Linked DNA regions of Homo sapiens: region 2 is linked to region 1. The links come from fine-mapping of genetic effects on gene expression. A gene starts in region 1. The other region holds a variant in brackets. All regions are shown on one strand. Distances are between the middles of the regions.

Region 1 (5,377 bases):
ACACTGTGAGTTCACAGCCTCTTTTCTCCCCCAACGCACTCTGTTTTCACATCTCAGTACTTCTCTATTTTGCCTTCTTCCCTGTAGTTTGCCTGGGAATTATGTGAGAGCACTGGATGCTCTTCTACCTCCAGCAGGAAATTGCTGCTGGGGGAACTTCCTACCAGGGATAAGTTTTCCCTGTGTGGAAGGGGGTTGGGAGGGGTGTGTGTCTTGCAGGCCGCCTAGAATAGATTCCAGACCTTGGGCCACACAGCCTGGTAAGTCAACCAACAGCCTCCTCACACCTCATATTTGCATTCCAGTTCACTGAGTGATTTCACACACTGGCTGGCAATTCTTGAGCCTGCTGGAAAACCAACCAGGGATTCACCTCATCCATCACTGGTCTGCAACTGCCTTTTGAGGGCCACAGCAGGGGATGGAGAAATGTTTCTTAACCAGGGCTACATCAGCCAGTGAAGGGGGATACGCTCTCAAATGCAAACCCTGGAAAACCAGATGGATAAGAAGCAGACCTGGAGTTCAAGATGGGCTCCAAAGGTAAGAGAGGTAGGTTCAGATCCTGCTTCAGAGCTAACTAGTTGTATGACCCTGGGCAAGTTACCTAATCTCCTTAAACCTGTTTCTTCCTCTGTAAAATCGGGATAATAAAACCTACATTACAGGGTTTGGGAGCTTTAAAAGAAGTAACTGCAGGTAACGTACACAGCCCAGTGTGTGGTAAACAAAAATGTACTTGGTAAATGTTAAACCATTGTGCTTGGAAGTGGTGTGGGTTAATGGTCAAGAGCCTTGGGTCCGGAGCCAGACTGTTTGGGTTCAAATCCCACCCTTAGCATTTAATAGCTGAGAGCATTGGGTAACCTTCGCTGACTCAATTTATCTGTCATTAAAATGGAATTTTATTACAACATAGCAGATATTTAATAAATATTAGCTACTTTTATTTCATTGGCAGTAAAAACAGTTGATTGAGTTTCCACCTCAATCAACAACGTAGTAGTGAATTAAATGAGAATTCAGTACAATGCGTATTTTTTAAAAATTGTGAAGACCTTGTATGCATTTATGACTTTTTTGGGCAGAGTCAAGCTGCGATGCTAAGGGTGTGGTTAAACTGTAATATGAAGGAAAAAATTCAAACAGGGAGCATAAACCACCCACCAGGGAGCTATTTCTTTTGTAATGTGCATTCCATTTCTTCTCCCTCATGCTTTTTAATTCCTTCCATATTTCCTGCCATAATTATCAAATGTTTAGTTTCTGACCTCACTTTCCTGGAGACTGGAGCCCGGGGAATTTAGAATTGTTTATTTTCTGTCCATAAACCTTTGAGTTAATGGAGCGGCTTCTGAGCAAAGAGTTTGTTGGTTTGTTTGTAGTGTCTCAGGAAGGTCGTTAGAGTTGAAAAAATTGGTACAAAAAAACAAGCGCTGAAATGCTTTAACTGGAAACTCGAGCCCCCAAAGAGCAGAGCAATGGATCTTCTCTTACACTTGCGCAACGTTACAGGGAACACTTGGGAAAAGGCCGTTACATTGCCCAGATGATAACACAAAACCCGAGGACACTTCACAAAGAAGAAAATACATTTCAGAGAATCATGATCTCACTTTAAAAGAGAGAAAGGAAAATTAATTTTGCCCCAAAAGAAGAATCCCGATTCCTCTGCCCCCGCCCCCAGGAGACAGACTTGGGAGGGAAAAGTCCCCAACTACTCTCAGTCTCCTCTGAAGTGAAGGACGGAACTGAGGCGCCTTTTTGAACTCGCTGCTGCTCCAGTCGCCGCCTCGTCCCCGTCGGCCCAGCCCGTCCCCTCTCCTCCTCCCCGCTCTCCCTCCATGTTAGCCGCGGCGGGGCTCCCGCTTACGGCCCGAACTACTTTTCCTGCTTTAAAGATTTAAGTTTCGTAAGCAGCATTACTGCCCCAGCTCCACCCCAGCACACCCCAAGGACCGAAACTCCCAGCGCCACCCCGGGAGAGCATCCCCAGGACGCGCGCCCACCCGCCCAGCGCGCAGACCCAAGAGGCCCCGGGGACCGAGTTCGGACTCCTCGGCCCCTCGCCTACCTCGGCGCGGACCCAGGCGACCGCCACCAGCGCGAGCGCGAGCGCGAGCCAGCGTTTCCACATCTGCGGAAGAGAGAAGAGAGCGAGTCTGAAGGCGCCGGGCCCCGCGCTGACCTGGGAAACTTGCTCGGGTCCCGCAGGCTCGCTCCGGCCGCCCAAGCACCCCCGGCCGCCCGAAGAGTCCGGCCTCCGCGCCGTGCGCCCTGCGCTCACCGTGGTCTGGTCCAGGTCTCCTGGGGGCGCGGGGCAGGACGGCGGCAGCGAGCTGTAAGCGGAGGTGGGAGCTCCGCCGATCGCCAGCCTCGGAGGAAATGCGACCTCCCCTCGCCGCCCCTTAAGACCTCTCCTTCCCCGCCTGCCTGCCCCCCCAGCTCCTCCCCATTCTCCTCCCCCTTCTGCTGCAGCGGCCCCCGCGGCTCCCGCTCCCCCTCCTTCCGACCCCTGCTCCGGGGAGCCCGCGGGAGTCCTGGCGCCGCCGAACCCCTCTCTCCGCACGGTCCCTCGTCCGGCGCCCCTTCGGCCCCCTGGACGTGGAGCGGAGGCAGAGGGGGTGTCCCGTGGGTCCCTGCCACAAAGGGGTAGGGGGAAGGGAAACCCCACCCCGGGAGGGGCTGCTGGCTGGCGGCGGCCCGGGCGGGCTGCGGCGGTGGCCAGGTGGGCGGTGCCGTGGGGGGCCCGGGAAGGTCCGGGACTGGAACCTGGAGGAAAAGACGTCCCGCGGCCTAGGAAGCGGAGCCGCCCCCCATGGCTGAAGGGGGAGGCCCAGGGAGGCAGAGGAGACCCCGCATCCCGGGGTCACGGCAGCAGGGCAGCGGGGCACCGGGAAGTGGGCGCAGGGCCGGGAAGACCGGCCGGCGTGGGGAAGGCTGCTGTGGGTTCTACAGTGCATTGTCCCGGGTGAGGTGGCGGCCGCCCTGCTCTGCTGGGAAGATCCTGAGTCCAGCGTTTGCCGGCAGCCTCATCCCCTCCTTCCCTCGGGCCGGGGAGCGGTGTCCCCCTCCTCTCTTCCGCCCACTCACTCATCACCTGTGTCCCTCCTCCCATCCCTGTCATCCCAAGTAGCCTCTGTGTTCAGGATTGCCATCTTCACCACCTTCTTCCCAGCCCTTGGCCTTCGAAAGTGTGCTACCTCTTTGACAGGGTTAACTCCCTAAAATGCTCCTAATTAAGGCGCCTTTCCTGCCATAACTAGTAAGGAGAGCAGATCCACTTAGCAACTCAGATTTCACATGCCCAAGACTAAGCCTCACTTCCCCCAGCTTCAGGGCCTGCTTATCTACCTCTTTCAGGGTGGTTGCCTTCAAACCTATCTCCTTTTCTCAGAGCCGGCTTGTACCCATAGCCTGGCAGTTTAGCCGCTGAGATCTCATATGCATCCCCTCGCCTCCGTTCACATGTCCACTTTCCTAGGCCAGACCTTCATCCTCCCTCACTCAGAAATTCTGGAAACCTCCTTTCGTTGTCCTCTGACTCCAGGCTCTCCCCTGTAGTCTCCACTGCAATCCATTGTCATATTCTTTCCCTTATTTTAAACATTGTCTTCCTCGTGTTCATGTTCTTCCTCTACTCAGAAACTTCAGCGTTCTTCTACCCACATCAAATCCAAACTCTGCCTTTCTTATAAGCCCTGCATTACTGGGCCCACCCTGTCCATCTAACTTCTCTTCAACTACATCAGCATACTTCCTCCGCTCAAAGCAGGCCCATCTCCTCGTTGTCCTCTGAACTTGTCATACTCACTCTGCTGCCAAGGTTTGTTGAGTGCCCACTGTTGTGGCTTTAGGGGGCTTCAAGATAATACCCATGGTCCCCATGTAAGTTCAGAATCCACTGAGATAGCAACAGGAGTCAGACTTATGGAGAGCAAAATGTCAGCTTTGTCTCTGCTAAAGGCTGGAATGGCAGCCATGGCTTTAGATCTGCAGGGACAGCGGGCCCAGAATTGAACATGTCCACTCAGTCACAAGCAGAGCTGGAAAACCTGCCTGTGTAAAAACTAAACTGCATGGAAAAGCAGAAAATATGTGCCTCCTGGGACATGCCTGCTCCCCAAACTTGAGGGGGTAGAGTGACACATCCCCAGTTCTTTCAAACTCTCCAGTCAGACAACTTACTCCTGCTCCCTTGTTATGGTAATAAGATTAGGGAATAGATGTTCCGCACCAGATACTCTGTCTTGGTCACTGTGCAAGGATTGAAGGGAACTATTGTGGATAAAGTTCTGCCCTCGAATAACGCACAATACATTGCATCCCTTGCAGATCCACTGCACCCTCTCAGAATCTGGTATCATCTTTCCTCCCTTCCTCTTATCTACTAAAATGCTTGGGTTTGTTTGTTTGTTTTGTTTTCAGGAACCACGTCAAGTTTGCTTCCTTCATATCTTTTCTGACAACAGCTTGGCATGGTAGAAGGCACAGGAGGTTTGAGGTCAAACCAATCTGGCTTTCCATCCTATCACTGCCATTTACTAGCTGCATGGCCTGACTTGCATCAAATAATAAGCCCTCTGAACCTAGGTTTCTGCCTCTGACAAATGGCAGTGATAATGCCTTGCAGGGAGTTGTGAAATTTAAGCAGATGCATATAAAAAGTGCCTGGCAGGTAGTAGACCTCTGTATGTGATAGCCATTATTATTTCATGATCGGCTTTGCATCTAAATTGTAGTTGGTACTATACACCAGGTACTATGAAAGCCATTCAACATCTCTTATTTTATTTAATTTTCACAATAGATAGAAAGGAGGCTGGGCACGGTGGCCCATGCCTTGTAATCCCAGCACTTTGGGAGGCCAAGGCAGGCGGATCACTTGAGGCCGGGAGTTCGAGACCAGCTTAGCCAACATGATTAAACCCCGTCTCCACTAAAAATACAAAAATTAGATGGGTATGGTGGTGGGCACCTGTGGTGCCAGCTACTTGGGAGGCTGAGGCACCAGAATTGCTTGAACCCGGGAGGCAGAAGTTGCAGTGAGCCGAGATTGTGCCACTGCACTCCTGCCTGGGCAATAGAGAGAGACTCCATCTCAAAAAAATAATAACAATAAAAAATAAAAATTTAAAAAATACAGTAAATGGAAAGGTCTTTTTTATTGCTTCCGTTTTCCAAATAAAACTGAAGCTCAGGAAGATTTAGATACTTTCCCAAGTTTATACTGTTGGCTACACAGCCTTACAACTTGGGGCATTATATTGCAGACTGCTATACAATGTTTAACACTTGTTCTCATAGTTATTCTTGATTCTCCAGCTAGTTTTAAGTTGCTTAGAGCAAAAACAATGTTTTTCATATCTTTATCCTC
Region 2 (5,377 bases), 23 kb after region 1:
TTGTTTAGAAAGCCTTGTTCCTGGAAGCTGACAAGCTGTGAGTTGCTTAAAATGTAGTAATTTACCTGTGAATAACAAAACTAAATATAGTCATGCAATATACAGTATTTGGAAACAGAAGAGCATTGTTTAAACAAGATTTTGAATAGTTCCCTCCTTAGGAATATGGTAAATGGCCTCAGCAAAATCTGTATTTTATATTTTGAAAAGAAATAGGATTTTTTCTCAAATTTTAATGTGAATAGGAATTACCTGGGCATCTTGTTAAATGCAGCTTCTGATTCAAAAGTTCTGGGGTAGAGCAAAAGATTGGTCTGTGCATCTAAAATTTTCCCAGGTGATGTTGCTATATCTGCCCACCAACAACACTTTGAATAGCAGAGCTTCAGAGATCATAGGACAGAGCTTCTCAATCCTGACTACACATTAGAATCATCGGGAGTTCTTTTAACAAATATCAATGCCTGGTTTCCAACATCCAGAGGTTCTGATTTAATTAATCTGTGATCTGAGTCTTACACTCAGGTTACTGTCTTTTTTTAAAGTGATTCTAATATGCAGCCCAGGTGGAGAATCATTGCTCTAGTCCATTGCTCTTTAACTTTAATATGTATAGAATAGCCTGAGGATCTTGTTAAAATGCATACCCTGATTCAATAGCTCTGGGCCAGAGCCCAAGATTCTGCATTTTTAAAATGCTTTTAGGTCATACTCAGGCTGCTGGTTAACGGACCACATTTTTGAGTAGGAATGGTCTAATTCGGCATTTCTCAACCTTGACACTATTGACATTTGGGGCCAGATAATTCTTTGTTGTAGAGGGGCTGTTCTGTGCATGCGCTGGCCTCAACCCACCTAGATGCCAGTAGTAACCTCCTACTACCACCACCACATGAGATAACCAAATATGTCTCCAGACATTGTCAGATATCCCCAGGGTGAGGGGTGCAAAATCACTACTATCACCACCAACGTCACCTGCTGTGCTGGCTTGATTCATCCTTCTCATTTTACTGGAAATAGGTCCAAAAAGTCCAGTGTTACAATGTCTCCATCTTTAAAGATCTCAGAACCTCTAGGTATTTGAAAGCTGACAGATTACAAAGCTGACAGCTGCCTTAACAGGGTGTGGTAGATAGAAGAATGCACCCCCCACCCCCAGAGAGATATCTATATCCATGTTCTAATTTCCCAAACCTGTGAATGTGTTACTTTACATGGCAAAAGATGCTTTGCAGATATGACTAAGTAAAGGATCTTGAGATGGGAAAATTATTCTGGATTATCCAGATTGGCCCAAGGGTCCTCATAAGAGGGAGACAGGGTGTCTGAATAAGAGGAAGAGAAGTGACAAAGCAGAGGTCAGAGAACTAGTGATTAGAAGATGCTATGCTGTTAGTTTTGAAGATGGTGGGAGGGGCCACAAGCCGAAGAATGCAGGCAGCTTCTAGGAGCTGAAAAGGTCAGGGAATGGATCCTCCCGTAGAGCCTCCAGAAGAAATACAGCCCTGATGACACATTGGTTATAGCCCAGTGAAACCCATTTCTGTAAGAGAATAAATTTATGTGTTAAGTCAATAAGTATGTGGTAAATTGCCACTGCAGCAATAAATTTACACATAGGGGAATGTGATAAGAAGATAAACGATCTTATGTTGTGGGGAAGCAGAAGTAAGGTTGTACTTGGGTAGAATAGAATATAGGGAATGGGAAGGTGATTAAGGCAACTGAACAGACCCTGAGTTGAAAGGGAGAACTGATAATGCTGTTCAAAATTAAGAGTAATGAATGGAAAATTCCATGGGGACCAAGGCAGGACTAGTCGGAGCAGATGGGCAAGGTGGGAAGATTATGTGGGAGAGCATTGGCTGCATGTGTGGGGCCAGAGAGCATCAGTGTACTGCTTCCATGTTGCGGCCCAACATGCTTGGACAGGGCTTTGTGGTCCTTGGTGTTTGCTGCCTCTTAGAATAATCTGAGAGGAGTGTAAAACTCCTGCAGCTCAGGCTGCACCCGTACCAACAAAGTCAGAATCTCTGGGGACATAGTCATTTTTAAAACTTTGTGTGATTCTAATGTGAAGCCACATTTGAGAACCAGTGCTTAAGAAGGTAAACAGTGAGGGACAGACCAATAAATGCATGAACTCAAATTAACTTGTTTCTAGAATAACGGTTCTTTGGCACTTTTGAGGTGGCTACTTTCTTGCAGGGAGTGATGAAGGTGGGAAACCTGGTACCACCTGATGTAGCTGCAGGTGTTGGAGTGAGGATGAGCCCCAGGTTGTATGTAGTGGTGTCCAACGACAAGGCAGGGGGCCCCTCAGCAGTAGGGCAGGGGAATGGGGAAGAGAAGCTGGGAATATTGGAGGCCAGGGCTGAGAATGAGGCTACTTATCTAAATCTTGTCACCCAGAAAAATGTGAGGAATTCATACATGTGCTGGACTGAGGTCAACATCAAGGAAGAAGGGGGAAAGTCTCCAGAAAGCCATGAACCACCATATCCTTTA[G/T]CTGATTAACTTTCACTGGTAGTTCAGGGTGTATCTTAGATATGCCTCTTTCAGGAAGCCTTTTCTAACCCGCAAGCCTGAGTTAGATCCTCCCTTTTGAAGCCTTTTCAAATAGCCTGAACTCTATTCACTAGATGCCAGTAGCACTCCCCAATTTGTGACAACCAAAGATGTCTCCAGACTTTGTCAGGTGTTTCCTGGGGACAAGATCACTACCGGTTGAGAACCACTGGTCTAGAGTAATATAACGTGTGCACATCAGACACGGTCAGTTCTGTAGAGTCAAGTAAGGGTTCCTTCTTGTTGCCTCAGGACCTTATTTTTCTTTCATTCTCTTTCTCCAACTCAGACACTCACTTGGGGGTTGGAAGTTAATGATGTGGCTTCTACAGAAGCAGTGATTATGTCTATGCTGCTTTTTTTTTTTTAAAGTCATATTCTCAGTCCTGTAGAACTGGGACTCTTTCCATGGCTTATTCCATGCAGGGAAAAATGCCTCCTTCCTGAGTGGGAGCCCCTCCCTGAGGTGCACCACAGCTCCTGTAAAATCTTGAGGATGTGGGGAGTAGCTTGGACCCTTCAGAGAGGGTTGGTTTGCTTAGTGGTGGGATGGTTCTGAGGAACCATCTCATAGCTGGTACAAGTGCCAAATAAGAGACTTCTTCTGAATCTCCACACATTAACCCTTTTATTTTGTGCTTGGAAAATATGTGCTGAGCTAACCACACAACAATAGCTCCAGACAGGCCAATGAGTGATGTTTCTCAAGATAGATTTAATCAAATGCTGCACATAATTTGAAGTCTTAAAATGAATTCCTTCTGCTTTCCAGTCTATGGGAGCATGATAAATAAAGCCATGAGAGGAACTCAGAGCGGGTGAATGTATGTCATCCCATAACAATGCTGGGAGAATGTTTGGAAATCCTCCCTTCAGGGTTCAAGTTGGGATGCAGGAAAGGCTGGTTTCTCTCCCTATATCCCTTCCTGAATCTCCCAGAATATCTGCCATGCCTAGAAAAACCTTCTTTAGTTCATTGTGAACAAGAAAGGCAGCTCATCTAAGAAAACATTGCCTCTTCTGTGTTTAGGGTACTCAGCATCTCATTTTTCACTATGCCTCATGATGAAATACTCATTATAATATGAAAGGGGCCACAGTTTGAAAGTAGGAAACATGGAAGGGGCTGGTGGTCCCTAGGAAGGTGATGAAAGTGAGTAAATGTGCACTTGATCCTGTCATCACTGAACATTTATGGGGCTTCCACCATGTTCCAGACTCTGTGCTAAGTACAGGAGATGTAGGTAAAAAAGATAAAGTTTGGAATTACCAGTTGGTGGAAGGAGGCAAAAAAGTAAATAGCTGACTGCCAGCCAGAGTGAGAAGCTTAATGACAAGTAAGGGGTGCTGTGGGAACACATAGGGGTAACCTCAGTGAGATGGGGTCAGGGAGCATGTCCCAAAGGAAGTATCTTATAAGCAGATGAAAGCTATCCAGGTGAAGGACCTGGATGATGGGATGGGTGGGAATGGGAATTTCTGGCTAAGGGCAATTTAGAAGCCCAGAGGGAAGAGAGAAGCCATGAACAGGAAGCAATTTAGTCTGGCTGGAGTAGACAAGGTCAAGTGGGATGTGCATGGCGGAATCCATGTAAGGAAGGTGGCTGTTTCGTTTCATGAAGACCAGGAGCCAGCTTGAGGCCAGGTCCGGGAACACAGATATCCCCACCATTGAAGCCCACCTTAGCCTCTGCAAGAAATCCCCTGGGCTTTCTGCTGGCTCCAAATCCCGGGATCAGAAAGAAGATGCAAATCAGGATCAGTAAGAAGCTAAGAGGCCTACAGTGAGGTTTTGTGTCTTGGCAGGTGGTGGAGTTGAATTTCCTGAACTCTCTGTGTGGGCATAGATGTGTTTAGTCACACTGTGGCTTGAGGGCTGATTTGAACCTACCTCAAGCAGGTGCTCTGTGGGAATAGTTAGGTGGGGGTTGGCAGGATAACTCATTTTATTAAACAAAAAAAAAAGGCCGGGGGGTGGGGCTTCTTCCTATCAAAACAGGGGAAGGAATGAATAAATTATTGATGCTAATTAGAGATAGGCAATGACAAACCTGGAGTTTCTGCCAATCATCAGCATATAAGTGGATAGTGCCAGCCTAAAGGTGCAGACTCAGGATGCCCCACCTTGATGCCAGGTGTCACCAGCTCTTCTCCAGTGTGGCTGAGCCCATGATCTCACTAGGCCCCTGAAGAGATCCCCACTCGGCACTCTAAGGTCAGACTGGGCCACCTTCCTGAGGTGCGCCTGCTCCTGCACAGCTGGGTCTCACACAGGCCTGCTCTCCATTCCTCAGGATCCCACCTGTCATCCACTGCACAGGACTCCTAATAGAATTCCATCAAATTTCAGAGCCAGATGGAGCTTGCGGAGTGTATTATTCAAGTTCTTCATTTAACAGCTGAGGAAACACAATTTACAGCTGAAAGCATTGGTAGAAGCCATTATCTGCTATGCGGGCTGAGTCACAGAGGAAGCCAGGCAGCAGCAAGAGAGGCCATGAAGCAGAGAGATGCTCAGAAAGGAGCAGAGAAGAGCAATTGTGAAAGACGATCCCCAGGTTGCCTGGATCCATTTGCTTTTGTTTTCGTTTTTGCTTTTGTTTTTTGATACAGGGTCTCACTCTGTCACCCAGGCTGGAGTGCAGTGGTGTAATTATAGCTCAATGCAGATTTGACCTCCCAGGTTTAAGCCATCTCCTGCCTCAGCCTTCTGAGTAGCTGGGGCTACATGTGCATGCCATTACACCCAGCTAATTTTGTTTATTTTTTGTAGAGACAGGGTCTCACTATGTTGCCCAGGCTCATC

The links. PIP is the estimated chance that this variant, and not a neighbour inherited with it, causes the effect. A credible set is the group of variants that fine-mapping cannot tell apart.
Region 2: its variant is the best candidate, but not a certain one, in a credible set for the expression of FSTL1 in whole blood (TOPMed, PIP 0.67).

The regions. Positions count from the first base shown.
Region 1 is chr3:120,448,610-120,453,986 of GRCh38, forward strand. It overlaps FSTL1 (follistatin like 1), which reads right to left and starts at 2,383. Exons shown (of 11, transcript NM_007085.5): 1 at 2,288-2,383; 2 at 2,075-2,137. The coding sequence starts at 2,137. LOC124900546 (a long non-coding RNA gene) reads right to left here and starts at 2,045. Exons shown (of 2, transcript XR_007096030.1): 1 at 1-2,045.
Region 2 is chr3:120,471,147-120,476,523 of GRCh38, forward strand. No RefSeq gene overlaps it. Among named protein-coding and RNA genes, the nearest start is that of FSTL1, 23 kb to the left of the region's middle. The variant G/T (reference allele first, on the strand shown) is at 2,512.